Homo sapiens: one gene and its partners. The protein of the gene in region 3 interacts with the protein of the main gene of each other region in a pairwise test. Each region holds a gene or a part of one and is shown on either strand. Other genes may lie near its edges. The genes, in order: SACM1L, TMEM120A and DHRS7.

The links.
Region 1: the proteins of DHRS7 (region 3) and SACM1L interact in binary tests that used the Homo sapiens proteins (3 or more experiments, as listed by UniProt).
Region 2: the proteins of DHRS7 (region 3) and TMEM120A interact in binary tests that used the Homo sapiens proteins (3 or more experiments, as listed by UniProt).

What each region holds. Positions count from the first base shown.
Region 1 is NC_000003.12:45,732,523-45,742,555, forward strand, and holds part of SACM1L (phosphatidylinositol-3-phosphatase SAC1), read left to right. Parts: intron 1-2,712; coding exon 2,713-2,851; intron 2,852-5,060; coding exon 5,061-5,130; intron 5,131-5,249; coding exon 5,250-5,322; intron 5,323-6,055; coding exon 6,056-6,149; intron 6,150-6,258; coding exon 6,259-6,351; intron 6,352-7,064; coding exon 7,065-7,122; intron 7,123-10,033.
Region 2 is NC_000007.14:75,989,637-75,999,498, forward strand, and holds the start of TMEM120A (transmembrane protein 120A), read right to left. Parts: upstream 4,960-9,862; 5' UTR 4,935-4,959; coding exon 4,854-4,934; intron 2,922-4,853; coding exon 2,803-2,921; intron 2,625-2,802; coding exon 2,508-2,624; intron 1-2,507. Other genes in the region: STYXL1 (serine/threonine/tyrosine-interacting-like protein 1), read right to left, coding at 6,832-6,963. UniProt on the Homo sapiens protein: Multifunctional protein involved in mechanosensation, and plays an essential role in lipid metabolism and adipocyte differentiation. May function as a potential ion channel involved in sensing mechanical stimuli.
Region 3 is NC_000014.9:60,160,347-60,171,075, forward strand, and holds the start of DHRS7 (dehydrogenase/reductase SDR family member 7 isoform 1 precursor), read right to left. Parts: upstream 5,053-10,729; 5' UTR 4,964-5,052; coding exon 4,831-4,963; intron 1-4,830. UniProt on the Homo sapiens protein: NADPH-dependent oxidoreductase which catalyzes the reduction of a variety of compounds bearing carbonyl groups including steroids, retinoids and xenobiotics.

The DNA of each region.
Region 1 (10,033 bases), on a different chromosome or scaffold from region 3:
GCTTTTCTATATTCTGTTTTATCATAACATAGTTCTAAGAAAGTGCTTTTCTTCACCCTGAGCACCTGGTTTATTTCCTTTCCTCTTTCTATCATGAAAGATTGTGGTGCCATGAATCATTATATATATTTTACATCTGTTAAATTTATTTCTTTAAAAAAATTCTTCAGAGTAGGATTAATGGATCAAAGGGTCTGAATGTCTTTGCAGTACTATATTATCATATTGGTTCAGGTTTACCATACTCTATGCGTGCCAGTCTTTACCGATTTTAAAGCCAGAAGAAGGAATCTGTAAATCGTACTACCATTTTCTTCTGCCTGTGTGTGATGGTTCTAAACCTGGCAATCCAAATGCACTTTTTAATTTGTTACACAATAATATAGTAAAACCTCTTGGATAGACATTTGCTCAGTTTTCAAAAATATCTTTTTATATACATTAGGTAATCAACTACAGTTATTTAAATCTGCTTTTTTTCTGTGACGTTTTGCCATGAACACAGAAGGGAAATTGACCTCCTGTTGTTGGGCAATTAGAGAAAACATTGGCTGGCCCTGGCATGTTGTTGGAGGAGGTAGTTCCTTGGGTTCACCCATTAACTGCTGCCGTACAAGAGTGTAAGAAAGAAGGAGAGTTGACTCCAGAGTTTGTGTTCGTTGCTGTTCACTGTGGTCCACAGGGAGAGCAGAGCTTTCACTGGTGACTTTCAGATGATCTCTCGAGACTTTTTTCTAAGGGTTTTGGGGGTAGTGGGAAGAATCTGGGCTTTGGGATCCAACACACCTTGGTTTGAATTTAAGTTTTTCTCTTAGTAGTAATATGACCCAGGGCCACTTAGTTATCTTCAGACTTCGGTTTCTTCATTTGTAAAGTGAAGATGATAACTTACTGTATAGTTTAAGCGATAATGTTTATAACATATCTAGGATTTTATAAGTATTCATGGGGTACGGACACACACACCCTTGCACACACATATATATGTACACCAACTCTAAACGAACCTTACCAATTCTGCATGATCCATATGTAGATTTTTCATCCTAACACATTCTTCCACGCTTTTGTTCCTGAGGTCATGATTTGTATTTAGCCCTTGATGAATCTGTTGCATTTTCTTCCTCCTTTTGGATTTTGGAGAATAGTTTCAATAGTTAACATTATCCAGTATTCGTTGTTTGCTGTGTTCCATACACTGTGCTAAGTACTTTATGTGCATTATGTGTTATCTCATTCAAACCTTAGAGAAGCCTAATGGTGGTGCTGCTGTTACCTCCATTTTGTGGATGAAAAAGCTTACTATTTAAAGTTCTAGAGTTAGTAAGTTGCGTATGATGCTAAGGCTAGCAAACAGATAGTTTGCTTCCTGCATCCATATTCTTAACCACCACACTGTGTGTTGTCAGATTTTTGAATTCATAGAATTATCAAGGAGCTTGTTAAAGAAAACATGGGAACTGGTAACTGTGGTTGGTTGCAGTGCAGACATCTGGATGTTTAAGGGGAGGAAGGGAAACTGATTTTTCAAATAATACCCAATTGTTCTTTATAAATCTTGTACTATTTGCATGTATTACCCATTTAAGAATTTTTTTTTTTTTTTTTGGCTGGGGGCTGTGGCTCACGCCTGTAATCCCAGCACTTTGGGAAGCCAAGGCAGACGGATCACCTGAGGTCAGGAGTTCAAGACCAGCTTGGCCAACATGTCAAAACCCTATCTGTACTAAAAATACAAAAATTAGCCAGGCATGGTGGTGGGTGCCTGTAATCACAGCTACTCAGGAGGCCGAGGCAGGAGAATCACTTGAACCTGGGAGGCAGAGGTTGGAGTGAGCTGAGATCATGCCACTGTGCTTCAGTCTGGGTGACGGAGGGAGATTCCATCTCAAAAAAAAAAGAAAAAGAAAAAAAATATTTTTAAGTATTTAAAAAAAATTTTTTTTAATTTAGATACAGGATATCGCTCTGTCACCCAGGCTGGAGTGCAGTGGTGTGATCATAGTTCACTGCAACCTTTAACCCTTGAGCTCAAGTGATCCTCCCACTTTAGCCTTCTGACTACAGGTAGGCACCACCATGCCTGGCTACGTTTTTGTTCTTTTAGAGGCAGGGACTCGTTATGTTGTCCAGGCTGGTCTCGAACTTCTGAGCTCAAGTAATCCTTCCACCTCAGCCTCCCAAGTAGCTGGGATTACAGGCACGCACCACCACGCCCAGCTAAAAGTATTTTTAATGCAAAATATTCAATCCTTGCCTCAGAGATTCTGATTCAGTTGATCTCAAGGCCAGGAATCTTTTTTCACAAGCAACCCAGAGGATTCTAAAGATAGTATATGAATCATAAAGCCCTGACATCTAGGGATATAGTTGGAATAATTATGTTAGAGGAAACCCTCATCTGGCTTTGGGAAACATGATTGATTTGCACAGCAACCTTTTTAATACTCTTAACTTTACTTTTTCACATCTTTGGGGTGAGATGATCTCTAATCTTCAGCCATTTTTTGGATGGAGGGCTGTCTTGCCTCAGCCATTTAGACTTCTTTTTGGTCTAGGATAATCACATATGCCTGACCACACATTCCTGTCTGACCTTTTAATTTACAGTTTTTAATAATGTCACTGAAATGAGACCCATGTTATAAGAGTTAAGTCCTTAGTAAATCTGACCTACTTTGGTATGAGAGTGTTTATACAAATATGTTTTAGTTATTTTCTAGTGGACTCTGCTGGCCAGGTGGTGGCAAACCAGGAAGGCGTGTTCCGAAGCAATTGCATGGATTGTCTAGATAGAACCAATGTGATCCAGAGTTTGTTAGCTCGTCGTTCACTTCAGGCCCAACTTCAGGTGCGAATGCTTTTTTTTTTTTTAATTGAAAAACAACACAGCAAAAAATTAAACATCTTTAAAACCCAGTAACAAAAAATATTCACATTGCCCACACCCTAACCCAGCTCTTTTTATTTTTGTGTCTTGCCCATGGATGTCACATTTTCCATAACTAGGGTCAGTCTGTGTATGCACAGTTTTCACTTTTGCCATTTTCCCTTAGCATTTATGTAATCACAGTTTCTGGTGGTTGTATTGTTGTGCCGTAATTTACTAAGCCATTCAGATTGCTACATTTTTGGTTTATAAATAACACCGTAGAGAATATATCTGTATATGTTATTATTAACTTGAATTATTTCCTTCATGTTAATTCCTAGAAGTGGAATTACTGGGTTAAAGAGAATAAATATATTATTTTCCAAGAGCGTCATACCAGTTTACACTGACACCAATAATGAATCAGTAAATCCATTTCATTGAACTCTTCCCAGCATTTGATATTTTAATTTTTTTTTTGTTTTTCCTTGAGAAAGTGTCTGGCTCTGTTGCCCAGGCTGGAGTGCAGTGGTGCAGTCTCGGCTTGCTGCAACCTCTGCCTCCTGGGCTCAAGCCATCCTACTAACTCAGCCTCCCACAAAGCTGGGGCTACAGGCATGTGCCACCACACCTGGCTAATTTTTGTATTTTTTTTTGTAGAGACAGGATTTCACCATGTTGCCCAGGTTGGTCTCAAACCCCTGGGCTCAAGCAGTCTACCTGCCTCAGCTCCCAAAGTGCTGGGATTACAGGCTTGAGCCACTGTGTCTAGCCTCTTTTTTTTCTATTTCGTTAATACAAAAGTAGCACCTCAAGATTGTTTCTATTTATCTCTCTCTTATTACTAGCAAGGAATATTGACTCCAAAGTAAAAAGTTTCTGACACAGCTTTGCTTTACCACTAGACTATGCTGTTGAGAAAAATGGTTTTTTTCTTCTGTGTATATTTGGAATGAAAAAGATGTAGAGCCCCAATTTTTAAATCACATTGGCATTTGTTGTGAGGGGCAGACAAAATGCATACCACATGGTTTCCTGTTCAGGTAATTAGTAAGCATTCAGCTTTATTTCTGACAATTGTATGATACCGAGAAAGAAATTATGGAGGTAAAATACCCCCTTCAGAATGAATTGTTCTTGAATCTTAAAGTCACACCTGCCAGAGGAGTGCTGTCCCTGTTGGAGTAGTCTGTAGTTTGTATTGTGCTATGTCCTCGTCTGTTGGAAGGTCTTCTAAGTGTAGTTTTTAATAGAAACAATATTAGGAATGGTTTGGTTCCATGGCTGATTAACCAAAACTTACTTGACTAGGCTCTGCAATCCATATTTTACAATTTTACATGCTATATATAGTATTATGAAACCTAACCAACCTGCAGAGAGTGGGGGCAGGAGCCTCTCCAGCAGCTTTGCCTACTAGTGTAGGGGCTGTCTACTTGTGCCTCTCCAAGTCTGCCAGTGAAGGCAGAGTTCTTACCCAGCTAAAGGTCACCAAGGTGGCTCCTGTGCTGTGTCTGAGGGTGGGAATGACTCCTTCTGAGGTGGAGATGAGGTGTCATCTGAGGTAAGCAATGAAGATGGTGGTTCTCAGAAGTGATGGTCTGAGACAAGGCAGGGACTTGTCATCTGTGGTTGGTGGTCTCCAAAGGGGAGTCTATAGAGGGGATTCAGGGGGCCCAGCAACCCTGGGATATTCTATGTCTGTGTGTGTGCACTTTTGGGGAGGTAGATTAGGTGGCACTCATCAGATTCTTAAAGGTCCCTGGGACAGAGGGTAAGGCTGGGGTGACTCAGGGGTGAAGAAGTTGAGGGATGATGCATGTGAGGGGGTCTCAAGGGGTAGAGGCAGTAGAAGACTGGGGGTAAGAGGGAGGGAGGAAGTAGCGGCTGGAATCCTATAGCAGCTTTCACTCTCTCTTCTGACCCTCTCCCTGAGTATAGTCCTGCTGCTATCCCTCAAGGGAGTGCGGGGGCTGCAAGGCAAAGGTGCCCTCAGGAGAGGCTTTGCAGTCTGCCCTGGGCAGGAGAGGGCTGCTGTGAGCTGGGGCCCCCTATAGACAACAGACATTTCTGGCCTGCATCCAGCAACCAGGCACCATGAGATAAAATTTGGGGACTGCTTTTTCTTCCTAAACCATGTCTGCTAAAATCTATTACACATAAATCTGGGTGTGGTTTTTTATTCCAGAGACTAGGAGTTTTGCATGTGGGACAAAAGCTTGAAGAACAAGATGAATTTGAGAAGATTTACAAAAATGGTAGGTCATTTCTTTAATATAGACAAAGTTGGTCAGATTTTGAAATAAATTAATATTCTGGATTTAGAACTTTGTTTGTCATCTTAATAATTATCAGCTGTTTTTACTTTTTTCTACAGCCTGGGCTGACAACGCAAATGCTTGTGCCAAGCAATATGCGGGAACTGGTGCCTTGAAGACTGACTTTACCAGGCAAGCCATGCTTTTAAAATAGCATTCCACATCAGTAGTTCACAGTCCTGGTGCTTTTAAAAATCACCTGGGCAGCTTTCAGACAGCAGCAGCAACAACAGCAAGACTCCAGCATCTGGGCCTCACTTGAGACCTGTGGAGTCAGGATTTCTGGGAAGTGAGGCCCGGGTACTGGTGTGTTCTTAGCCACCCTGGGAGATTCTGATGCTTGGGGAGGGTTGAGAGCCACCGCTCCACAGTGCTCCTCAGACCTTACCGTGTACCTGAAGCACCAGTCTTGAGATGTGCTCTAAAAAGCACCCAGGTGATGCTGATGCTGCTTTCAAAGACTGCACTGAGTAATGAGGACATTAATGAGAACATTTTGAATGTATTATGCATGCAGTGGCTCTTTTTCTGCTATGTGGGTTCCCTGGGAGCAGAATAAGATTTCTAGTCTGTTTGCTTTGCTGTGTCCTACCACTTAACCTGGGCTATGTATTTCTCTTCATATTTCTTGTCTTTGCAACTGGAATTAGTGTGTTTCTTTGTGCCTCCTTTGGTAATATTTTAGAAAGAAAATAGGTATTTCTTGGACCTACAAGTGATTTCTTTTGTGAAGTATCTGTATTTTCAGGGATAGTTTTTAAAATCTGTCACTCACTTATTTCTATACCTTATGCTTATTGGCCATAAAACAGTGTGAGAATTCAGTGTACAAACCTGTAACTTAAAATTTAACCTCTTTAACCAGAACTGGAAAGAGAACTCATTTGGGACTTATAATGGATGGCTGGAACTCAATGATACGATATTATAAGAACAACTTTTCCGATGGATTTAGACAAGTAAGTTTGTATTTGATGCTTTCCTGGCATTACGTGGTTGTATCTTTGCATTGTTCATCACTAATGTTATCTCACACTGAGTTTACGAATTTCTTCCTTTCTGTTCTAGGATTCCATAGACTTATTTCTTGGAAACTATTCAGTGGATGAATTAGAATCTCATAGTCCTTTAAGTGTTCCAAGGGACTGGAAATTCCTGGCTGTAAGAAACCATTTTGTATTTTTCAAGTTTTTAAAAGCATTGTGTCTGAAGGTATAGATGGTTTCAGTCTCAATTTAAAACGTTATATGTGGTTTTATATTTCATTACATGAAATATAAATACTTAAGTTTTCCAAAGAGGTCAGGCTGAGGAGTACAGTAACTGTGGAGCATTTGTTTTCTTTTCCTCAGACTCTCACACATCCTTTTCATGTGAAGTAACATAAGCAAAGGGAATGTGGAAGCTTTCTCATTTCAGGAAAACTTCAATTCTCTTACATTGAGGGAATTGCCAGAGACAAACGTGTTACATGGAAGGCAAAGTTTATTTTTGATGCTTCTCTCCTTTTTGACTCCTCTGTTCACCAGACCCTGCAAGAGCCGCTCTGGATTTTCTTTCCAGTGTGTCAAGTGCTCTGGAATGGAAGGGAGGCCTAGTGTTCTAGGTCCTCATCTGGGCATCCTCCTTCCATTTAGCACCCTTTGGCTTGGAGCAAAAGCATGCTTCTTCCGATCTTACCACATCCCCCATCTAAAGTCTAGGGCAGTTGTGATTGAACCCATAAATAATAATGTTTTGTTGACAAAAGATATTAGCTGTGTATTAGCTGACAGATGAGTTTTATTCTTTTCCCAAGCAATGCATGCACAACTGATTTTGCTGCCATTGATTAGCATTCTTAAATGATGATCTCTTTCTATTGTCTTTTCCAGTTGCCTATTATCATGGTTGTTGCCTTTTCAATGTGCATTATCTGTTTGCTTATGGCTGGTAAGTCTGCTCCACACATTTGTTTCTTAGTTAGAATGTTGACCTTTCTTTTACAACATCTTAAGTTTTTGAGTTCACCGAACACTTGATGTTTCCCTATTAAATTTAATGGGTAAAGTGGATGTGACATTAGATTGTCATTAGATGTGACAGGAAGAAAAATAACATACCTAGTAGTTTGATGGTTGTCGTTTTTTTTAACCTCAGATTTTAAAAACATGTTTTTCTTATTACTGTAAACCAATGAGTGTCTGAGACAGGTCTCAGTCAGTTTAGAGGCTTAATTTGCCAAGGTTGAGGACCTGCCCAGGAAAAAGAGACACAAGATACAGTAGGATCAGTATCTTGTGCTTTTTCCAAAGAGGGTTTTAAGGACTTCAGTATTAAATGGGGAAAGAGTGTACAGGAGAGGAAGGAGGAATGGAAACAAAAGGGGAGGGTAGGTAGTAAGATAAGTGGTCACATTCTTGTGAGGCTTTGATTAGCACTCACTGAATCCATGTTACATGTGAAAGGACGGGGTAGAGGAACAGTCAATTATGCATTCATCTCCTGCTCAGTAAATCTGCATTTTATGTAAGACAAAGTAAACATAGAGTAGATAAAGAAGTCAGATCTGCATTTGTTTTGGGGTGGGCGGAGGGATGATTTTCTAGTCTTGTCTTTGTCCCATACCTGTGAAAATAAACTGTTAATTTACATTGTCAGGGTGAGGGAGATTCAACAGGACTGTCTTTTAGGGTAAAGATTTTGGGGCCCACAAGGAATTTGCTTGTGACAGTTTGTGAGGGTGGCCATCTGTGAGGATATGTGGCCCACTATCTTTGCAGCTGTCTACTTAGGAACAAAAGGAGGGTAGTTTTGTGAGACTCAGTTCCCAAGTTTAACTTTTTCCTTTGGCATAGTAAATTTGGAGTCCTGAGATTTTATTTTCCTTTCACATTACCAAAGTAATACATAGTAATTATAGAAAGCACACGTAGGCAGAAAAGGAGAAAATATTATTTATCATCATACCTTTGAGAGAGAAGCTAACCACTCTTAACATTTTGATGTTTTAATCTTTATAAGTGTCTGTGATTTTTTTTCAAAAGTGAGATACGTATTTTCATTATCTGCTTTTTTTCACTGAGCAGTATGTTTTCCCATGTTCTTAATTGCTAATGGCTGCAAAGTATTCCATTTATGGATGTATAGTTTAACCAACTCAAATAAATGTTAATGGATTAAGATATTACTTATCATTACATTTTAAAGGTTGAGAGTAAAATTGCCTGAGAACCTGAGGAGACAAGGTCTTTACTGGTTTTCTTTTTTCTCTTAATATTTTGCTATGTTACTGAGTTAATAAAGCATTTAAGATTAAAGTGAGAAGAATGTATTCTTTATTCTCCTTTGAGTAATGTCCTGTAATTTGGAGGTTTGAGTCTGAGACTTGGTGTATTGGACGTTGGAGATGCAATCCTAGTCACTCTGAAAGAAGAGGCACCTTCCAGCCTTCATCCTCTATCCTGAATTCGTTGAGCCAACCTCTCTCTGCCTGTCTGAATTCCACCATCCTCAGGGCACCATTCATATGCTCCCCTCTCACAGAGTGTCTCTCCCACACAGAAGTCTTCACCTTCTGTCTGGATTTCCACAGCACTCCTGGTCCTCTCTCCCAGCACTTTCCTCTTTTAACCTCATTAATACATAGGGAGTTATTTTTCAGAGGTGGTATACCTCTTTGGTGTACCTGACATACCCAGTGTGTATTTCTTTTTGGATGGTAATGATTTGCATACTTGTTTGTTTTTTTCACTGGATCAGCAACTTTTTGAAGGTAAAGACTGTGTCTTACTCATTGTTTTATCTCCTTTGTCCAGGATATAGTGAGCCCTCAGTAAATGTTTGCTGAATTAAGGACTCACTCCACCACCACCACTAATTCTGTCACCTTTTTGATAGGGAGGCTCAGTTACCTGTTCATCTCTGTATTCCCCTCAGTGCTCAGCCCTGTAGACAGTCGTGACATAGTTTTAACTAAATGCTGAAATGTTGAGTAGGGGGAAAGAAAGAGCCATCTTATTATTATTATAGTTAGCAAAATTTTTCTGTAAAGAGCCAGGTAGTAAATATTTTTGTCTTTATGGATGGCTGTACATTCTTTGTTTTTGTGTTTATAACCATTTAAAAATGTAAAAAGCATTCTTACCTTACAATACAAAAACAGGTTGAAGCACAGGTATTGCCTGGGACATGACTGCAGGTTTTAGGGCAGGAAGGAAGAGGCAGCATGTGCCGGTTCCTCAGCGGCCAGCCCTGCTTTCATTTCCTCTCTGGGTCCTCTGCCTTCTTTCCTGAAAACACTGCCCAGCGCATGCCATTTTTGGGGAGCCACTCTACTGTTAAATTAGTTCATTTTGTTGTTGTGACTATACCCACATTTACTTAAAGAACCTCTGGAGAGGCAGGAAAGTCAAGACCAAGAACTCTGCTTGAATGAAACGGATGATTCCTTTAGGGAGTGTCCAGCAGAGTGGCTAACAAGGAACTGCCCTTCTTCTTTTGTCCAAGAAGAATTTTAAACTTCAGAGCCATGAAAATGAGCAATTATGCAAATTCGAGTATATTTTGAGTAAAAAGAGATTGGATGCTGTGGATGGTAACTTCTCATGTCAGTTTATTCTTATGATAAACTTTGTGATGTTTGGTTATGGTAATATCTGATTTCTAGCTCCTGCTGTGGTTTTCAAAGAGAATAGAAAACAAATGTAGCATGATCTCTGAGGGCTTGTTAGGAAGGAGTCTGGATGCTAGTTTCTTCCGTGGTGTGCTCACTGGCTGTCATTCCCTGTATGTATTTCTCCTTCTGCAAATGAGGCCAGTAGTGTTGCAGAGAGAGAAGCTATTCTCTAGGTTCAGCTATTCA
Region 2 (9,862 bases), on a different chromosome or scaffold from region 3:
TTCAGAGACCCACACGCCTGGCCACATCTAGGACGACCTCCCAAACCAGAACAGAAACTCAGAGCTCTGACTGTGGGCTGACCCCAAGTACTCAGCCTCCCGGGGCGTTTCTTCCCACCACGACCCCCCTTGTCCCTCACCGAGGCCCCCACGCTCTCCAGTCCCAGATCTCATCAGAGCTGGCTGAGTCCCCAGGCCACCCGCCAATTACACCACTTTTTTGCCAATCCCCTTCATGTCCAGCCTCCACACCCACCAACTGAGATCATCTTGCCCTTCTCTGCCAGAGATACTCCAAGAGGTGACAGCAAAGTCACGGTCACTTTCTCAGCACCTGCCCCAGACACATGGGCTCTTGTTCACACTCAAGCCAAACAGACAGAGGCTCAGCATGGTTAGGCAATTTGCCCCAAGGCCACAAAGAACTTCTGGGACAGCCATGCTTCTCCCTCTACAGAATGCTCCCGGCACAGTGCTCCCCAAGCAGGCCAGCTTCAGCCTCCACTGCCAACCCACCAGGCTGCGGATGTGTCCCCACTCAGCTCGCCATCTGGTTCCCAGCACTCGCCTCTCCACATCCTCTCCCCGAAACCCTCTACCCTGTCTCCTCCCACCTCGGGCCCCACCTGCAACACTGCAGAGAAGACAGCCTGACTCCTGCTCTATGGGGAGCACTATGCCAGGAGCACTGTGCCGGGAGCACTCCTCACTCTCATCTCTGCACCCTCCATCCCCCACTAGCCCTTCTCGCTCTCCCCAGGCTTCCCTCCATCACCTCCTGCCCTTCTCCTGGGTCTTTCCCCTCTCGGCCCCTCTTCTCAGCAGGTGGATGTGCTCGAGTCTTCCCAGAGGCAAAGTAACCCCACAAACAGGCAGTAGCTGCCCCTCAACCCAGTGCTAATTTCCAGTTCCTAGTTGCTAATTCTCTCCCTCCACTCACAGCCAAGCTCTAAAAAGTCTCCCAGAGGGCTGGGTGCGGTGGCTCACACCTGTAATCCCAGCACTTTGGGAGGCCGAGGCGGGTGGATCATGAGGTCAGAAGATCGAGACCAGCCTGACCAACATGGTGAAACCCCATCTCTACTAAAAATACAAAATACAAAAATACAAAAATTAGCCGGGTGTGGTGGCGGGCACCTGTAATCCCAGCTACTCCGGAGGCTGAGGCAGGAGAATCGCTTGAACCACGGAGACAGAGGTTGCAGTGAGCCGAGATCAAGTGACTGCACTCCAGCCTAGCGACAGAGTGAGACTCTGTCTCAAAAAAAAAAAAAAAAAAAAAAAGTCTCCTAGACTTGGCTGTCTCCCTTCCTTGGCTCTTCTGTCATCCCCAAGATCGACATCCATCCCCTTCCACCAAATGGTTCTGCCAAGATGACCCAACTTCCAGGAAGCGCATCCCCTTCCTTATCACAGGACTGACCCCAGGCTACGGACACTCCTTTCTTCTCCCTGCCTTCTGGGCCACGCCCTCTCCCAGCTATCTCCCTGCCTGCAGCCTCTGCTGGGATTTTTTGCTCAGCAGGGGGTTTTGCACTGCCCCATCCGTCCTCCTGGGTGACAGCTGCTGGCCTTTCCAGGTGCACATTCCACCGCCCCCGCCCGCCTACTGGGCTCAAGGCAAGAGCTGCAGCCCAGCAAAGCCTCTGATCTCTTGGCTGCCTCTCACCTCCCGCCCCGACCTCTGGCCACTACAAGTTCTCATGGCCCGTCCACCTGCTGCTACCTCTCGCCCTCAGCCCATGTGTCTGCCTCATTTTTTTTATTTATTTACTTATTTATTTTTTAAGACAGAGTCTCACTCTGTTGCCCAGGCTACAGTCCGGTGGTGCGATCTCAGCTCACTGCAGCCTCCGCCTCCCGGGTTCAAGTGATTCTCCTGTCTCAGCCTCCCAAGTAGCTGGGATTACAGGTGCATGCCACAATGCCCGGCTAATTTTTGTATTTTTAGTAGAGATGGGTTTTACCATGTTGCCCAGGCGGGTCTTGAACTCCCGACCTCAAGCGATCTGCCTTGGCTTCCCAAAAAAGTGCTGGGATTACAGGCATGAGCCACCGCGCCCAGCCTATTTGTTCTTTTTAAATAAATAGAGACATAGGGTCTCAGTATGTCACCCAGGCTGGTCTTGAACTCCTGAGTTCAAGTGATCCTCCCACCTCCATCTCCCAGAGTGCTGAGATTACAGGTGAGAGCCACCACGCCCGGCCCACTCTTTATTCTGTAAGACTCAGCCCACCCATCCCCTAATCCAGGAAGCCTTCTGCGACCTCCTGGACTGGGTCAGGTGTCCCTCACTGTGCCACCTCATTCCCCATGCTACAAAGCACCTATCACAGTGAAATGTCACTCTCAGCCAGGTGTCTCCCCTGAAGTCAGCACTGTGCCTCATTGCTCAGCCTGTACTGGGCCCAGGGAACATTTGCTGACTATAATGACCAAGAGGAGGCAGCACCCGGCTTCAGGAGTGGCTGTGAACTGAGCTGGGGGTGGCGGTGGGGGCCCTCACCCATTCTTCTTAGGCAAATAGGCCTCCATGTCAAAGAAGAGGCCTTGGCGCTCTTTCATCTGGTTCTCCAGCTCCTGTGCGGCCCCCTCGGCCTCTGCTGGGAGGGAGGGTTTGCATCTGCGGGTAAGGCCAGAAACAGTCAGGGCAAGAGGACTCCCAAGTGTCCTCCCTGACTCCCACAGGGGCAGAAGGGCAAACAGGGCCCAGAGAGGGGAGGGGCGGTGCCCAGGGTCTCACAGCGCCAGCCCTCCCACCCCACACTCTGCCCATGGCGGGTGGGGTAGGGGATCCTAACTTCTTCAGGGCGAGGGCCAGCTCCTGGAGCCGCTTCTTCTGCCGCGTGATGGAGCTGGTGCAATTGTTCTGAAGTTTGGTCAGCTCCTCCAGCTTCAGGCGGTAGAGCCGATGGGTCTCCTGGGGGCCGGAGGGGAGAGGCTCAGGCCAGTTGGGGAGCTACTGAGCCAGAGCCTGCAGGCAGGACGTGGCGCTCAGGCTCCCCCAGGGCTGCTGGGAGGGTTTCGCTCAGCGGGAAAGGAGGTAGAACTGTGCCTGCCCAGGGATGAGGTGGCTGTCTCCCCAAGGCAGGCAAGGACCTGGGTGTCCTCCTGTGAGCCCAGAGACCCCCACAGCACCCCTCCTCCAAAAACAGACTAGGTGTTTTTGTTTTTGTTTTTGTTTTGAGACAGTCTTGTTCTGTTGCCCAGGCTGAAGTGCAATGGCAGGATCTCAGCTCACTCCAACCTCCGCCTCCCGGGTTCAAACCATTCTTCTGCCTCAGCCTCCCAAGTAGCTAGGATTACAGGCACCTGCCATCATGCCTGGCTAATTTTTGTATTTTTGTAGAGACAGGGTTTCACCATGTTGGCCAGGCTGGTCTTGAACTCCTGACCTCAGGTGATCTGCCTGCCTCGGCCTCCCAAAGTGCTGGGATTACAGGCATAAGCCACCGCACCCAGCCAAGGTTTTCTTAGTCTCAGCCCATCTGCTAGTTGTCCCCACCCTACAAGGACAGACTCTTTCTCCTACCTTGAGTCTGGAGCTTAGGCCCCCAGGGCCACCTCCTGGACCAAGCAGGCAGCCCAGAGCCACCCCTCTATCCTCTCAGCTCCTCCTGCCTATCTAGCCTTCCAGTACAGGAGGAGCTCAGGTTCTCAGGAATCCCTGACATCTTCTTCCCAGGTTAAAGGTCATCAGGTTTCAACCCTAGAGCCTCCTGCTCTAAGGCCAGCCCCACTCCCTTCCCCTAGCACCTTTGGCCCAAGGATTCCCCAAGCACTTTGCCCTGGTAGGTGAGTCTCAAGAAGGCGCAGCCTAGAGATGGGGCAAGGGGCAGTGTGAGGAGAGCCAAGCAGGGGCTGTGGCCAGGACAGCGGCGGCCAGGCGGGGAGACTGGGTCTGCTCAGTCTCTGGGGAGAAGCACCAATGGCAGGGGCCTTGGCAGGGCCAGGGGCAGCTGGGTTTCAATGCCCACAGGAAGCAGTTGGAACCAGTCCAGGAGAGGCCAAGGGCTAACCAAGCCATCAGCTGGCCAGGGCTCTACTCTGTCTGGATCTTGTTTCTCATGCCCAGGAGGGGTCACCACGCCCCCTCGGACCCCAGCACGTGCCACTTCTGCCCACCCACAGCCACCGCCCTCTTCCCTGCCTGGATGAGGCCAACAGCCTCCTCCTCCCTGGCCTCTGGACAGAACAGCCACGGTGGCCCTGGGGAGCTCAGTCCAGACAATTCCTCCCGTAGCTTTCCACTGGCCTCGGAGGGACTCTGATCTCTGCCAGGCCAGAGCGTCCCTGCAGGGCCTAGCCCCGCCCACCCCTCCCACCCGTCCCACCCCTCCCCTGGTTCTCCTTGATGCAGCCACATGGGCCTGTCAAGTCCCCTCTTTCCTTCCAAAGGCCTCGGCGGCGCGCGGTATCCCTCTGCCTGGGGCGTCCCCCATCCAGGCCGAGGACACCCCCCTAAACGCTGCTCCCCCGACCTGGGCTGCCTCTCGGGCGCTGCCCGCTGCGCGTTTGCTGAGTGGCTGACCCAAGGCTGGGCCCGCCCGTGTGTGACTCAGGCGGCCGCTCTCTTCTGGGAAGGGACGGGGTCGGGGTCTGGGCCCCTTTCCAAGGCCCTCATTGGAAGCCGAGGTCGCCCAGCGCGATGGGGTCCCGCCGGGGTTCCCGGACACTGGAGGTGGTGGCAGTGGACACCAGGACCAGGGGCCTCGCCCCCCTTGGCAGTGACGCCAGGGCCCCGACCCCTGACCCTTAGCTCCCCACTGCCTGACCCAGGGCTGCCCGACCCTTGACCCTGAGCCAGCGAGACGCGGCTCGGGGGCGACCCGGCGTCCGCAGCGGCGCTAACCTGGATGTTCTGGAAGTCCTGCTGTAGATCCTCCCAGTCCCGCAGGCAGTCGCCCAGCGGGCCCGGGGGCGGGGGCTGCATGGCTGCAGCGCCAGTAGCCAGTAGTGGAGGACGGCGCAGCAACCCCGGCCCACCCGAGGCTCCTCCGCCACCGCCCCCGTCCGCTTCCGGGCTCGCGCCGCCACGGGCACCAATGGGGAAAGGCCACGCCCCCCACCCCAGCCAATCCGGGACAGGGGCGGGGTATGGGCGGGGCCGTATGCAAGGGCGGTTGCTAGCCCCGGGACTCGCGGCCTGGACCGGGACTGGGACGGCTGCAGCCCCCGGGCCTGGACTGCACTGACTGTGCCAGCCGCGTGGTGCAGCCAGCAGGGCTCTGGCCCGTCATGCTGAGAGCAAACCAAGGTGCAGGGAGGTGACACCTGCTTGCAACATTTTCGTCCTTGGGAAGCTGAGCCTCTTTGGGGAAGGGAGTTAGAGCTGCTTCTCTCGCTTGGATTTTTACAGCGGCCTCCTTTCTCCCTGCCTCACCTCCACTGTCCCTTCTCGCGGCCACCGGACTGCCCTTCCCAAAACACAAGGCTGATTCCCCATCATGTTCATGCTTAAAACTTTCCAGCGGCTGTGTCCTGCCTACCAGGAGGTCCCTAATCGGAGCTCTGCAGCCATCCCGGGCTCTGTCCCAACTCACACCCTGAGGAAAGCCAGGGCTGTGTGTAAAGCCGTTCCCCCTCTGGCAAAACCCCACTCCTCCTTGAAGGCCTGCCCTTCTGTTGAGGGGAATCCCCCACCCCCTCCCACCCCCATCCCTCCACAGAGCGCGCTAAGTGGTGGGACGGCATTCATCTCTCTGTTCCCAGCCCCACCCACGCGGTGGCAGGGAATGGTTGCCGAATGGACTTGGGGAAGGTCCTGCATGGATGGACATCCTAATCCCCTACCAGTCCCCTAGTCTGTGCCGTCTCCTGATGCCCAGTTTGTTCTGTGGGTGCTGCCAGCTTTGGAGAAGTGCATTTGGAAAACAACTTCCAACTGGGTGCCGTGGCCCACACCTGTAATCCCAGCATTTTGGGGAGGCCGAGGCTGGAGGATCACTTGAGCCCAGAAGTTCGAGACCAGCCTAGGCAACAGAGCAAGACCCTGTTTCTACAAAAATAAAAATAAATTAGCCAGGTGTGATGGTGCATGCCTGCATTCCCAGCTACTCACTCAGGAGGTTGAGGTGGGAGGATCGCTTGAGCCCAGGGAAGTTGAGGCTGCAGTGAGCCATGATTGCGCCACTGCACTCCAGCCTGAGAGACACAGCAAGACCGTGCCTCCAAAAAAAAGGAAAGGGGGTAAAAAAAAGGAAAACTTTTAAGACCTTAGGAATTTCTAGAAACGTGGATAGGGAGATGGGGGAGGGGGTGAGAATCTCTCCTTGGTGAACACAGCCAGGCAGAAATGAGTGGGGAGCAGGGAAAGAAAATCTGTTTCAAGGGGTGGATGGCAGGAAGCGCTGGGGATGAGGCAAGGGTGTGATCCCATTCTAGGAGCCTGGGGGCTAGACAAGGCTGGGCTTGGTATCTCTGGGACTAGGGGACTGCCTATTGGTGGCTATTGTGACATCCTCTGTGAACCAACACAGGCAACCTCTGGGTACCCCCAGGCAGCCTCCAAAGGGTCTAAGTCACCAGGGGGATGCAGGGCAGCTGCTCTAGCAGCCAGATGCTCTTCCAGAGGCAGCCTCAGGGGTGCAGTTGGGATGGCCCGCGACACCTCAGGGATGCGGGTTCTTGGTGAACCTGAGCAGGGCGCATCAGCTAGGTGGCGTGAACAGGCACTTGGGAAGAATCAGTACAGGAGGCTAACATGAGACTTTCAGGCAGCAAAGGCCTTCTCCTTCCAGACAAGCCTGGGTATACACACTCTGGCCCTCCACCCACAAAATGCCCCCAGGTGAGGCTCTTCAGTACCCTTCGGTGGGCCTCGGAGAAGATCAGTAGAGCGGATCCATGATGTTTGTGATGGAATCTCCAAGGATAGTCTTCTCCCATTCCAGCAGCTGGCTCACCAATCCCCGATTTGGACACATGTTGTTTTTGCACTTCTTGACATAGGCCCAGGACCTCTATGAATACAAAGAGAGAAAGTGAACTTCACGATTGGTCCTGGGCCCTTTCCACTTGGATCAGAGGCAGCTTTCAGAGACAGGAGGCACTTGCACAGTGCCAGCAACACGGCTTAAGGGCTGGATGCAGAAACAGGGCAGCCTGGCATGAATGCATCAGTGCTGGGAGTCATGGGAGCTGACTCTGCCTTGGGCAAGCCCCTCTGCTTCTAAATCTGGTGACAGAAATAATTCCTATTTCAAACAGCTTCTGGGAAGATTAAGACAATATACATGAAACCACCTGTGGATGGCAAACACTATGCCAAGCCTAGTGCAGTCTCAACAAAGGTTTGCATTGTGACTGGACAAATTAATGGAAAGAGGAAGAGAACTGTGGGCAAATTCTCTGAAGAAGAAAATTCAAGCTGCCCTCCTTCAGGCATCCACCTTAAAGTACAGGAAGTGTTGCTGCATGAAGGAGGGTGAGCACCTGGTCTCCATCTGGATTGAGGACAAACGAAAAAGGGAAAGGCAAGAGTGGTGCCTAAAACTAGGAACAGAAGGAAATGGCCAGGCACAGTGGCTCATGCCTGTAATCCTGGCACTTTGGGGGGCCGAGACGGGTGGATCACCTGAGGTCAGGAGTTCGAGACTAGCCTGGCCAATGTGGCGAAACCCTGTCTCTACTAAAAAAATGCAAAAATTAGCCAAGTATGGTGGCACATGCCTGTAATCCCAGCTACTTGGGTGGCTGAGGCAGGAAAATTGCTTGAACCTGGGAGGCGGAGGTTGCAGTGAGCCGAGATTGCACCACTGCACTCCAGCCTGGGTGACAGAGCAAGACTCTGTCTCAAAAACAAAAAAGGAAGGAAGTGATGTCAACCTGATAAAGGCCATATATGAGAAGCCCACAGCTAACATCACACTCAATGGCGAAAGATAAAGTTTTTCCTCTAAGATCGGGAACAAGGCAAGGGTGCTTGCTTTCATCACTTCTGTTCAACATAGTCCTAGAAGTCCTAGCCAGAACAATGAGGCAAGAAAAAGAAATAAAAGGCATCTACAATGGATAGGAAGAAGTAACCTTACCTCTGGTTTGAAGATGACATGATTTCATATGTAGAAAACCCTAAAGATTACACACACACACAACACACACACACAGCTAATAAATTCAGCAAGGATGCAGGATACAAAACCAACATGCAAAAATTAGTTGCATGTCTATATACTAAACAATTCAAAAAGGAAATTAAGAAAACAATTCCATTTACAGTAGCATCAAAAAGAATAAAATATTTAACCAAGGAGGCAAAAGACTTGTACACTGAAAACTCCAAAACAGTGCTGAAAGAAATTAAAGGTACAAACAAATGAAAAGACATCCTGTGTTCATGGGTTGGAAAGCTTAATATTATTAAGATGCCAATACAACTCAAAGTAATCCACAGGTTTAAGGCAATCCCTATCAAAATCCCAACAACATTTTTTGTAGAAATAGAAAAATCCATCCTAAAATTCATATGGAATCTCAAAGGACCCCATAAAAAATATTTAAGAAGAACAAAGTTGTAGGTCTCACACTTCCTGATTTCAAACCTTAGTCTAACAAAACTACAGTAATCAAAACAGTATGGTATGGACATGAAGACAAAGAGACTAGTGGAATAGAATAGCCAGCCTAGCCTAGAAATAAACCCTTACCTATATGGTCAAGCAATTTTTTTTTTTTTTGAGACTGAGTCTCACTCTGTTGCCCAGGCTGGAGTGCAATTGTGCAATCTCAGCTTACTGCAACCTCCGCCTCCTGGGTTCAAGTGATCCTTGTGCCTCAGCCTCCCAAGTAACTGGGATTACAGGCATGTGCCACCACGCCTGGCTCATTTTTGTATTTTTAGCAGAGACGAGGTTTTGCCATGTCAGCCAGGCTGGTCTCAAACTCCTGACCTCAGGTGATCTGCCCACCTCTGCCTCCCAACCTGCTGGGATTACAGGTGTGAGCCACTGCACCGGGCCTGTCAAGGAATTTTTGATAGTATGCCAAGACCATTCGATGGGGGAAAAGGACAGTCATTTCAACAAATGGTGCTAGGAAAACTAGATACGCCATGCAAAGAATGAAATTGAAAACAGGAAATCAATAGAGAAAATCAAAAAAACCAAAAGCCGGTTCTTTGAAAAGATCAATAAAATCGATACACCGCTAGCCAGGCTAACTTAAACAGAAGACACAAATTACTAATACAGAAGTGAAAGAGAAGACATTGCTACAGATCCCACAGACATTAAAAGGATAATAGAAGAATATTCATATCCACAAATGTGATTGATCAATTCCTTGAAAGACACAGACTGCCAAAACTCACACAAGAAGAAACAGACAATCTGAATAGGCCTACATATATTAAAGAAATTGAGTGGTGGCAGATGCCTGTAGTCCCAGTTACTCGGGAGGCTGAGGCAGAAGAATGGCATGAGCCCGGGAGGCAGAGCTTGCAGTGAGTCGAGATTGTGCTACTGTACTCCAGCCTGGGTGACAGAGCGAGACTCCGTCTCAAAAAAAAATAAATAAATAAAATAACAATAATAAATTGAATCAATAATTAGTAACCTTCCAAAACAGAAAGCACCCAGCCTAGATGGGTTTATTGGTGAATTCCACACATATAATGGAATATTATTCAGCCTTAAAAGGAAGGAACTTATATAAGGTACCTAGAGTAGTCAAATTCACAGAGACAAAAAGTAGAATGGTGGTTCCCACGGGGCGATGAAGAGGGGAAAGTAAAGAGTTGCTGTTTCAGGTTTGCAAGATGGAAAAGTTTGGGAGATTAGTTGTACAATAATGTGAATGTACTTAATGCTCCTAAGCTATACATTTTAAAATAGTTAAGATGGTAATTTTTTTGTTGTGTGT
Region 3 (10,729 bases):
TTTTTTTTTTTTTTTACAAAATTACCTACTTTGTATCTGAAAAGATATAAATTATGGTCGTGTGTGTTTAAAATAGAAAAGCTTAAGGGAAAATAGAAATAGGATGGAAAAGTACTTGGGAAAATACTAGTAACCAACTCCAAATATTTTCACTCCAGATTTTTGTTATCTCTGGCACAGAGTAGATCTTTTGGGAAATATATGAGAGTAGATTAAGCTCGACTAACCTGTTTTTTGGCGGGGGGACGGGGGGAGGGGACAAGGCCTGGCTCTGTCACCCAAGCTGGAGTGCAGTGGCATGATCTTGGCTCCCTGCAACCTCCACGGCTCAGGCTCAAGCCAACCTCCCACCTCAGCCTCCCAAGTAGCTGGGACTACAGGCGTGTACCATCATGCCCGGCTAATTTTTTTGTGTGTATTTTTTTGTAGATATGAGGTTTTGCCATGTTGCCTAGGCTGGTCTCGAACTTGTGAGCTCTAGCGATTTGCCCACCTCAGCCTCCCAAAGTGCTGGGATTACAGGCGTGAGCTACCGCATCTGGCCAACTTTGACTAATCTTATGTACCACATCTGGAAGAGAACAGTTACAAAGAGTTTGGTCTCAAGGTATATTTCTACTCAGCAGATTAACTTTTGCAAAATTCCTTAAGAATGTATTAGTATCAGAACTGTGAAAAATGGGAGTTTCAGATGTACACTTATTGATAATCTTGCTCAGTTTTATCCTGCTTGTTCTCCCAGAATTTTTTGTAAACTCAACTCCTCTGTTTACAGAGTTTTAGTCACTTTTAACAATTTTTTAAAATTCAGTTTGTAGACTCCATTTGTTAAGGGAATCAATATCAGAAGTAATACTAAAATGTTATAATAGGAAAAGGGATCCACTAATATAGCTTATGGTTATTAGAGCTGGGCTACCTTTAATCATGGAATAATCTTATGTATAGGTGTAAGAATGACTCACTATATGAATACATACTAATCATATTACAAACATTTTGCATCCCTTTTGTGACCTAGACAGACATTTAAATTGTGTTGCAATTCTGCTTTCTTGTTTTACAAAAAGCTGTTTCAGGAAGAAAAGAAAAGAAATGAAACCTGTCTTCTAAATGACAATCCCTCACAGCTGTTAGGGAAGACAGCCATTATGTCTTCCCTAAGTCCTTTCATCTCTTACCTTCTCTAAGGCTAAATAAACCTATCCAATTTCTGCCACCTTCCCTCACATGACATGGTATCAGGTTTCCTCACTCTTCTGCTCACACCCACCTGCACCAATTCTAGTTGGTTAATGTTCCTCTTTATTAAAGGGAGCTGGCTAGGGCAGGACACAGGATTCGGTAGGGTCTGGACAGTGCAGAGCAGGATGAGATGTCAAAAATCACTTCCCTTGTCCCCCAGAAGGTAGGGTCTATGAGGGCCTGGACTGTGGCTGATTCAGTCACTGCAGTGTCCCCAGTGCCCCAGCACAGAGGCCGGCACATACAAGCAGCTAGTCAGGAGACATCTGTTGTTTGCAGTTGTTGCTTCAGACACTGAGGTCTACAAATGCAACCCAAGGTTGCCTGATCTTTTCTGGCAGCCACTTCACAGTTGACTCCTATTGAGGTTACTGTTAACAAAAACCTGAGTTTTGCTCACATGTGCTGCTGTTGAAATTTTTCCTCCTCTAGACTTGTGCCATGGATTTTTCTGGACCATTTTAATGTCTAAAATTAGTCACCCTTAAATTTCACCATATGTGGCTGGGCTTGGCAGTTCACATCTGTTATCCTAGCACTTTGAGAGGCCAAGGTGGAAGGATCACTTGAGGCCAGGAGTTCAAGACCAGCCTGGAACATAGTGAGAGCCTGTTTCTACAAAAAGTTTAAAAATATCCAGGTGTGGTGGTTTGCACCTGTAGTCCTAGCTACTGGGGAGGCTGAGGTGGGAGGATTGCCTGAGCCCAGGAGTTCGAGGCTGCAGTGAGCTATGATCATGCCACTGCACTCCAGGCTGGGTGACAAAGCAAGACCTTGTCTCTCTATTAAAAAAAAAAAAAAATCACCATGTGAGATATATGCTTGGAAATGCACAGAATTTCTCTAGACGGATACAGAGGAGGCAGGAAATGGTGGCTGCCTCGAGAGAAGCACACTAGGTAGCTAGGGCACAAGGGTCAGAGAAAGCTCTTTACTTTTTACTATATATCTTTTTGTATTTTTACTTTTGTATTATGTGAGTGTGCTATTTTTTTAAGTGACAAAAAATAATAAACCTACAGAGAAGTCAAGAAGGATTTTTTTTTCTTTTTTCATCTTGATAGAGTCTGCCCATCTCTCCAGTCTGAGCTGTTTTGGGAATCTGAGTCTATTTCAATTTTCCTTTAATCTTTTCTTCTTTCTCACTCCCTACCTCCACCAGGAGTCTTTTTAGACTTTTTTTTCCCCTAAAACTCTCCTGTGAAATGTTAATTCCACAGATATACTGTATATCATTTATGTACTGTACATATATCTGTGCTTTATACATAAAAGGAGTTCTATAAAGTTTACTCCTGCCAGGCGCAGTGGCTAATGCCTGTAATCCCAACACTTTGGGAGGCAGAGCGGGGTGGATCACCTGAGGTCAGGGGTTTGAGACTAGCCTGGCCAACATGGCGAAACCCCAGGTCTACTAAAAATACAAAACTTACCCATGCGTGGTGGCACGCACCTGTAATCCCAGCTACTAGGGAGGCTGAAGCAGGAGAATCACTTGAACCCAGGAGATAGAGGTTGCAGTGAGCCAAGATCATACCACTGCACTCCAGCCTGGCCAACAGAGCGAGACTCTGTCTCAAAAAAAAAAAGAAAAAGAAAAAAAGCTTACTCCTTAGTTAATAAGCATATGACTAAATAAGCATATGACTAAATTTTAAAATTAAGTTAAATGTTAAATTAAAATTTAAAAGTTATTAACTTCTAACTTTATAACTGTATTTGCTGAAAAACATTTTTATGGTTTTTGAGACAGTGTCTCACTATGCTGCCCAGGCTGGTCTTGAACTCCTGGGCTCAAATGACCCTCCTACCTTAGCCTCCAGAGTAGTTGGGATTGCAGGTACATGCCACCACGCCAGATTTTTGCTGAATAACTTTTATGTAACTTACTTAGATAAATAGCAATTTATCAAACTACATGTGCAAATTTGCAAATTATATAACTACATAATGATAACAATGTAATTAAATTTAAAATCCTTCAAACTGTTCTTTTCCGACAAAACACAACTGAAAATATTAAATGAATTTCTTAAAATTTTCAATGATCTTAACTTTTAACTTTTCCTTAATATGAGAAAATAACTTTTAACTTAGTAGCTTAGAGATATTCATTCAGATGTTGTCAATAATTTTGCTTTTTAGCACTTGACATAATTTGATGGGTTGAATATTTTTTGTAGGATTAAATAATAAAATATAATCTATTTTCGTTTAATTCTCCAAGTCCAAGTGAACACAAAAGCACTAAAGATCAAACACAAACAACGTCTGCAAGGCAGCCAATGGCAGCCAATAGGCACACATATTCCCCCGCTGAGGTGGAACAATCGATCAAGAGAAAGCCCTTGGTTAATGAAGTTGTGCAGTATTTGGGATTCCTGCTTTAAAAGGAGAAAGCCCAATCACTTGCCATAGTTTTGTAGCACTGCTGTGGCGTCCATGTTGTGTATTTTTCGTGAACTCAATGTCAGTGCTGCACATGCTATACCCAAGAAAACCCAACCAGAAAAATGAAATACTAAGGAATAATATTTTCTCGGGTGGGGTTAAGCTTTGGAGGGGCACAAACCACTGTATTACCAGATTTTTTTTTTTTTTTTTTTTTGTCCACAGGAACCAATTCTCACCTTGGGATCAATATCACCCCCCTCAACGCCCAACCCATAACGCCCCCCCCAAACATAGTCTATCTTTCGAGCTACTATCTCTTCCAAGCAAACTTTGTAACATGCTTTGAGTATTTTTATACCAGAAACTTGGTCCAGGGAAACCCCATTTCCCCAAGTCCTTAAGGATCCAAAGCCTAGCTTTCGGTAGGTCATTTAATTTCTCTGAACATCAGTTTCCCTATCTGGAAAATAAGATTAATAATGCCTACCTTGTAAGAGTTGTTGTAAAAGTTAAATGTTATGTGTGTAAAGCGCTGAGCCAACATACAGCAAATGTACACGATGTCAAATATTAAGCAAGACACAGATAAAGTGAGATAGGCAGTATGCCAATAATGATCTCGCTCCAGCAAACTGCCATTTTTAGTTCTTTCTAGTGTTTGACTAGAATGAGTAAGTAGGTGAAGGACTTCGGATTATCTCAGATTTTATTTCAAAACTGCAGGAGTGGGAAGTGGAGGACAGACTACTTCAGGTAGTAGAACGACCGGGCTTCCGGTACTTACAAAGGAGTTTCCCTTACAAACGCAGGGGGACGCTCACTGTTTCTCAAAGTATCGTCCTCTGAGACAACACCAGAATCCCTTGAGTCCTGCGTAAGATGTCAGAGTCCTCAGGAGCACCGCCGACTCCAGTGCTCTCTTAACAGTTTGGCACTCCCTGGAGAGGTTTCCTAGCCTGAATGGCAAGTCCATGCCATCTTCCGACCAGTACAGAAGACAAAGGGGCTTTTTAGCCCTCGCCTCTTCCTCCCCAACCCGCAGCCCCTGCGTAAGGGGCAGCCGGGCCTTCGGGAAGCTCCACGCAACCCACAAAGGACCCGGGATCACTGCAGAACCCCCGGAGACCCGGACACGCCTCGGCAGCTCCGAGCCCGGCCTCCCACTCGGGAGAGGCTTTGGCCGGTCCTCACCTGGGCGTCGTCCCTGCCACTCGGCCCATAGTAGCGTCAGGTCGCCGTCAGCCCTCAGGAAGCGCAGCAGCTGCACCAAGAGCAGGAGCAGCGCGCACAGCACCAGCAGCCACAGCAGCAGCTCCCAGTTCATTGCGGCCGCGCACGCCCAGCTCGGGGGGAAGAAGACGGCCCGCACCAGAGTCGCGTCGCTGCCCTGCGGGATCGCAGCGCCACCCCTTCGGCCAGCCCAGAGCCGCACTGCCCCGGCTCCGCCCAGGGAGCAGGCCGGGAGGAGGAGCGGCTCGGGCGCGCCGGGCTCAGCACTCGCGGCCCCACTCGCGGTCCTTGGGCGGCCCGCGCCCTCATGCGGCACACCCGGCGGGGCCGGCAGATTGCTTGAATTCAAGTGTCCGAGACCAGCCTGGGCAACATGAGGAAACCCTGTGTCTACCAAAAATAAATAAATAAAATTCCAGTATTTTTAAAGAAGCTGATTCAAACATAAGCTACATATTATACTACGTTATTTCCTCTCTGTACAGGGACACTATCAACGGCCAGGAGACAGATAGAATCATTCTTGCTTGGCCCCTCTTCTCCATTCCTATTCAGAAAGAACATCCCCTTTTCAAGCTTCAGTATCTTTTCATGAGGTCGAGAAAGTGCTGAAGAAAGACTGTGGCTATCACTCAAGACCCCACAAGCCAAGGCAATGGTCCCTCCATGGGGACAAGGTCCTTTTACAATTAGAGAAAAAAAGACTGAAGCCATGTGCTGTGTTGGCACCTTACAACCTGATTCTGACCACACACAAATTTACTCTGGTGTCTGTTTGGCAACCAAAGCCTAGGTTGGTACCAAATCCTCCCCTTACCCAAGCCATTATTCACATCCTAATGTAAACAGCAAATAAAAACAGAGAATGTAATGAAAACACCAAGGTCTTGCCTACTCTAATACACAAAAGAGTAAAATACTGTTTTTGATTAATTTCCGTTTGAAATGACCTTCAAAACATTTAATTGCTTCCCACTAAATACCTACATGTATTTGAGGCATCAATAGTAGCATCTTTCTTGTTTTCAAGCATTTGAAAGCAAGAGGGTTTTCCATTCACAAGCCTCAGAGGGACCCAGTTAGAGTGCATAGAAACTAGGCCATGTATGAGAACGACCTGTGGCCAAATGGAGAAAGTTCTGGGCGTTGATGCAGTAGAACTTTCATCCTCTTCATTTCCTAGAGTACTTTGTGTGCTCTGATGTCAAAGGCTCTTCCTTGGCTGAAACTAAATATGACTTTAAAACAGTCATGGAAATAAAAGAAGCAGTGACTTCCCTCCCCAGTGTTGTTTTCTTTTTCTAGTCTTGCCTGCCAAACTTTTGTTTTTCTTTAAATGTTTTGAAGAATGTTACTTGCAGTAATCAAATTTCCTTAAATAGCTCTTCCTTCTCTTTTTAAATCCTATTATAAACCCCCTACCTGCCTCCCCACCCTCATCCTTCTCTAAAAAGCTTTTTGGGGTTATCTGGACTCAGAGTCATCTTTCCCTAATCTCACCTCTTTTCACAATTACTTCTGAACTATATCTGAAATTGTTTTTTAATTATTTTCAGGGTTAATATAGTATTGTTCCAATGGAACTTTAGAATCCTTGAAATAAAGTAGCAAATCTGATGCTTCTTTTGAAGAGTCTGGAATACATAGCTTAGTGTTGACATGAGAAGCAATAAGCCCACGTTGATTGAATTCTCCTTTCCTTGAAATTTAAACCTCCTTGATAGAGAGTAGAAGGATAGTTACCAGAGGCTGAGAAGAGTAGTGGGAGGGTTGGGGGGGACGTGGAGATGGTTAACGGATACAAAAAATAGAAAGAATGAATAAGACCTAGTATTTGATAGTGCAATGGGGTGCCTATAGTCAATAATAATTTAGTTGTATGTTTTAAAACAACCAGAAGAGTATAATTGGATTGTTTGTAACATAAAGGATAAATGCTTGAGGGGGTGGATACCCCATTTACCATGATGTGATTATTACACATTGTATGCCTGTATCAAAGTATCTCATGTACTCCATAAATATATACACCTACTGTGTACCCACAAAAATTAAAAATTAAAATTCAATTTTTTAAAACCTCCTTGAAGTTCGGAAGTTAATGTTAAAATGAGAGTTGCTAGCATTTAATAAATCAATCTTCTCTAAGTATTATTAAAATGCTTTGAATAAAGTCCGAAAGTCTTTTCTATAACTGGTAACCTTCATTTTTAATTCCAGATGTAATAGAATGGTACCCTGCCTTCCCTCCTTTTAGTAATGGTCACTTTTGATGGTCTGGGGTCAGGCCCATTCATGGCAGCTAAGGCCCATTCATGGCAGCTAAGGCCCATTCAGGTCAGCTAAGATGAAGGCAGTTGTGCGTAAGCAATTGCCATCTTCCATAACAAAAGCATTATACAAAAATAACTTTAAAAATCCAGATCCTCCAAGATCGGCAGTCCCTAGGCGGGGGAAAAAAAGAGTGAGTGGAAACTGTGAGTGGAAACAGGGACTGAGGAATCTAGGGAGGGAATATTCTTCCTCAAGAACAATAAGGGGTTTGTGGTTTTTGATTGAGGATGTTTTCACATCCCTTAGATGCTTTTGGAAATGTGTTGGATGAACAGTGGCCATAGTGCCAGCTAGCCAGGGTGTCATCAGAGTGCTAACGATCTGGGCACTATGTAAAGACATACCCAACAAAGAATTGCCCTGCCCCAAAAGCTCACAGCACCCTTACTCAGAAATCCTGCAACCTGGCCACGGTGGAGAGGAGCTCTGCAATCTATTAGCAGCCTCCCTCCACAAGCTCTGGCTTACACCTGCCTGGCTGTACCCCAGCTACAAGCGTTCAGGTCATGGTCTAGTTTTCTGATATTCTTCAGGCAGACAAGGTCTTACCTAGAGTCTTATTTATAAGAAAATATAACTTACTTTCTTACCTTTAGTAATCTCATGGGATCCCTCAATAGGAATATCTCACTGCACTGTTCACCACATGCAGTTCCCCATATCAGTGCATTGATATTTTGTTTAGATTAGCCAATTTCCACAGTATCTTGGGTCTCTTAAACATAAGCAGTTTATAGCTCTCATTCTCTCTCCCTTAAATGCTCTGTTTCAAACTTCCCTTTATATATCTTGTCCATGATTTAGTAGTGGTGGTTGTTATTCTAATCTAGAACTTCAAACACTCATGCACACATGAGTACATGCAAAGCTGGTGAAATTTGAACGAGGTCTGTGGATTTTGCCAATACCAATTCCCTGGTTCTGTTATTGTTCTAAAATTATGTAAAATTTACTAGTGGGGAGAACGGGGTACAGAGTACACGTCTGTTCCATCTTTGCAACTTCCTGTGAATCTATAATCATTTTAAAGTAAAAAGTTAAAAAAATTAGGTTAAATTTCTTAAAATATGCAAATATTTTCTTAAAATTCTAAAACTGATCAATGCTTTTTCCTCTCCTTCTCTTTTTTCTCCCCTCTCCAGCCAGGACCAGCCTTGGAGATAAGCAGAGTGAACAGAAATTTATGGTCTCAGATTTAAGAAAAACAAAATTCTTTCTTGCTTCTTAAATCATACTCCATCCCATTGGCTTGCAAACATGCTGACACTCCTCATAATTTCACTCTTCATAAACCAAAGCATAAGGTCAGAGGAGAACTTGACATATTAGAACACTTAGGCATTGAAAGTGGTTAGTCTAACTAACCCATTGAAGTTTTGGAGAACCTGGGACTCAAATTTTGGAAGATGTGACAGATGATATGTTAACATACATTGCACCGAGGCTGAAGTGGGAGGATTGCTTGAGACTGCCTGGAAGGCAGAAGTTGCAGTGAGCCGAGACTGATGGTGTCACTGCACTCCAGCCTGGGCAACAGAGCAAGACCCTGTCTTAAAAAAACAAAACAAACAAACAAAAGAAACCAAAAAAAAAAAAAAAAAAAAAAAAAAAACCATTGCACCAAGTAACAGTCAACTTTTCAGCAGAGGTGAGTAGAGTTAATCAGTTAAGGCTTTCTGGAATACCAGCCCACCTCAAGGCCTTGTACATACTGTTCTCTCCACATAGAGGGATGGCCAGAAATCCCCCAGATGGATCCAACAATGCTCACCTCCTGTGTGCAAACCACCATGTATTTCCCTCCCAGGTTGTATCAGGGTTGATCACTGTAACCAGCAGAATGCTGCAGAAATGATGAGTGTGTGACTCCCAAGGATAGGTCACAGAAGCTATTGCAGCTTCTACCTCTTGCTCTCTCTTGTTTATACCTTTACTAAAGTATAATTCGAGTACAAGAAACTGCACATATTTAAGGTATACAACTTGATGAGTTTGTCAAATATATACACCTGTGAAACCATCACCACAATCAAGGTAAACATTTCAATCACCCCCAAAAGGGGTGACCCTTTGAAATCCACCCATCCTCCACCCCTTCCCTAGGCAGCCACTGATCTATTCTCTGTCACTGTATGGAAACACCTTACCTGTTTCCTCTGTGGGATGTAAAGTCCCATTTCTGGATCCTTTCAGGTCCCTGTCTAATGTCTATTCTCTTTGCCTTGCCCTTACTTTTGTTCAGATCAACTTTAGCCTTAGCAGGGAATTTGGTTTTGTAATTCCGAACCCTAAGCAGTCTTGGATTGCTGTCTGCTGAGATGGGGCATGAGAGCAGTGAGGAGCGTGATCTCTTTTAACAAAGCCGTATGCTGTTCCCAGCTATCTAAGACCAAGGCTTATCTCTTTCTAGTAGGATCTTGACAGGAGCCACAAGAAGTAACCAAGACAACAAGAGTTAACCTGTCCATATGCTTTCTAATTGCCAGGCCTATTCTAAGTGCTTTATATATATTAAATCCCTTAATCTTCACAATAATCCAGTTAATTAGGTACTATTTTAATTCCCATTTCCCTGATGAGGAAGCTTAATTGTGATTAAGTAACTTGCCCTAGGTCACACAGCTAGGAGACAGGGTCTTTGAACCTAGGTAGTCTAATTTCAGTCTTTGCTCTTGAACCACCATATAATACTGCCTCTCACACCAGAGCAGCCTAATTTTGTTCTGCTGGATTCCCTGAAGCTTCTACCTTAGTATGTACAGGTCTGAATCCCAAAGAAACTACAATAACATCTTAATGAGCTGCTTCATTACCATATCATAAAGACTGCCCACTTCCCACCCAGGGATGGAGGGAGATGGAGAGAGCCTCACTGCCTCCTACTCCACCTTGACACAGTAGTTCACATTTTAGGATATTTCATTTCTAGCACTCTACTTCTGGGTACCAATGTCTCAATCAGTCGGTACTCTCAATCGCAAATGGCAGAGACCCACTAAAATTAGCTTACGAGAAATGTTAAGGAATGTATTTGTGCCCCCATAGGTAAATCCCCTACCCTAAGGATGTGGCCTGCCTCTGCAACCAACCTGAGGTCCAGGTGAAAACCACTAACCTGTGGGCCAGGAGCCCAAGCACAGCACTGAGGCCTGTTACTTGGAGACAGAAGTGCTCAGGCAGAGTCCAGGGTCATTACCTTCATTTGGTAAGAATTTTGATGTTGATTTCTAGTGTCTAGAGACCTCAATATCCAAAATAAACATTAATATATTAATTTTCTAGGGCCGCCATAACAAAATATCACAGACTGGATGGCTTAAACAACAGAAATTTATTTTCTCACAGTGCTGGAGTCTAGAAGTTCAAGGTCAAGGTGCTGACAGGGCTGGTTTCCTCTGAGGTCCCCCTCCTTGACTTGAAGACCACCCCCTCTCCTTGTCTCATACCTCAGAAAAAGAAAGAGAATTCAAAAGTTACAGAAAGGCAAAAATAAGATCAATAGTCAGACAGCCCACTGCAGCACCTC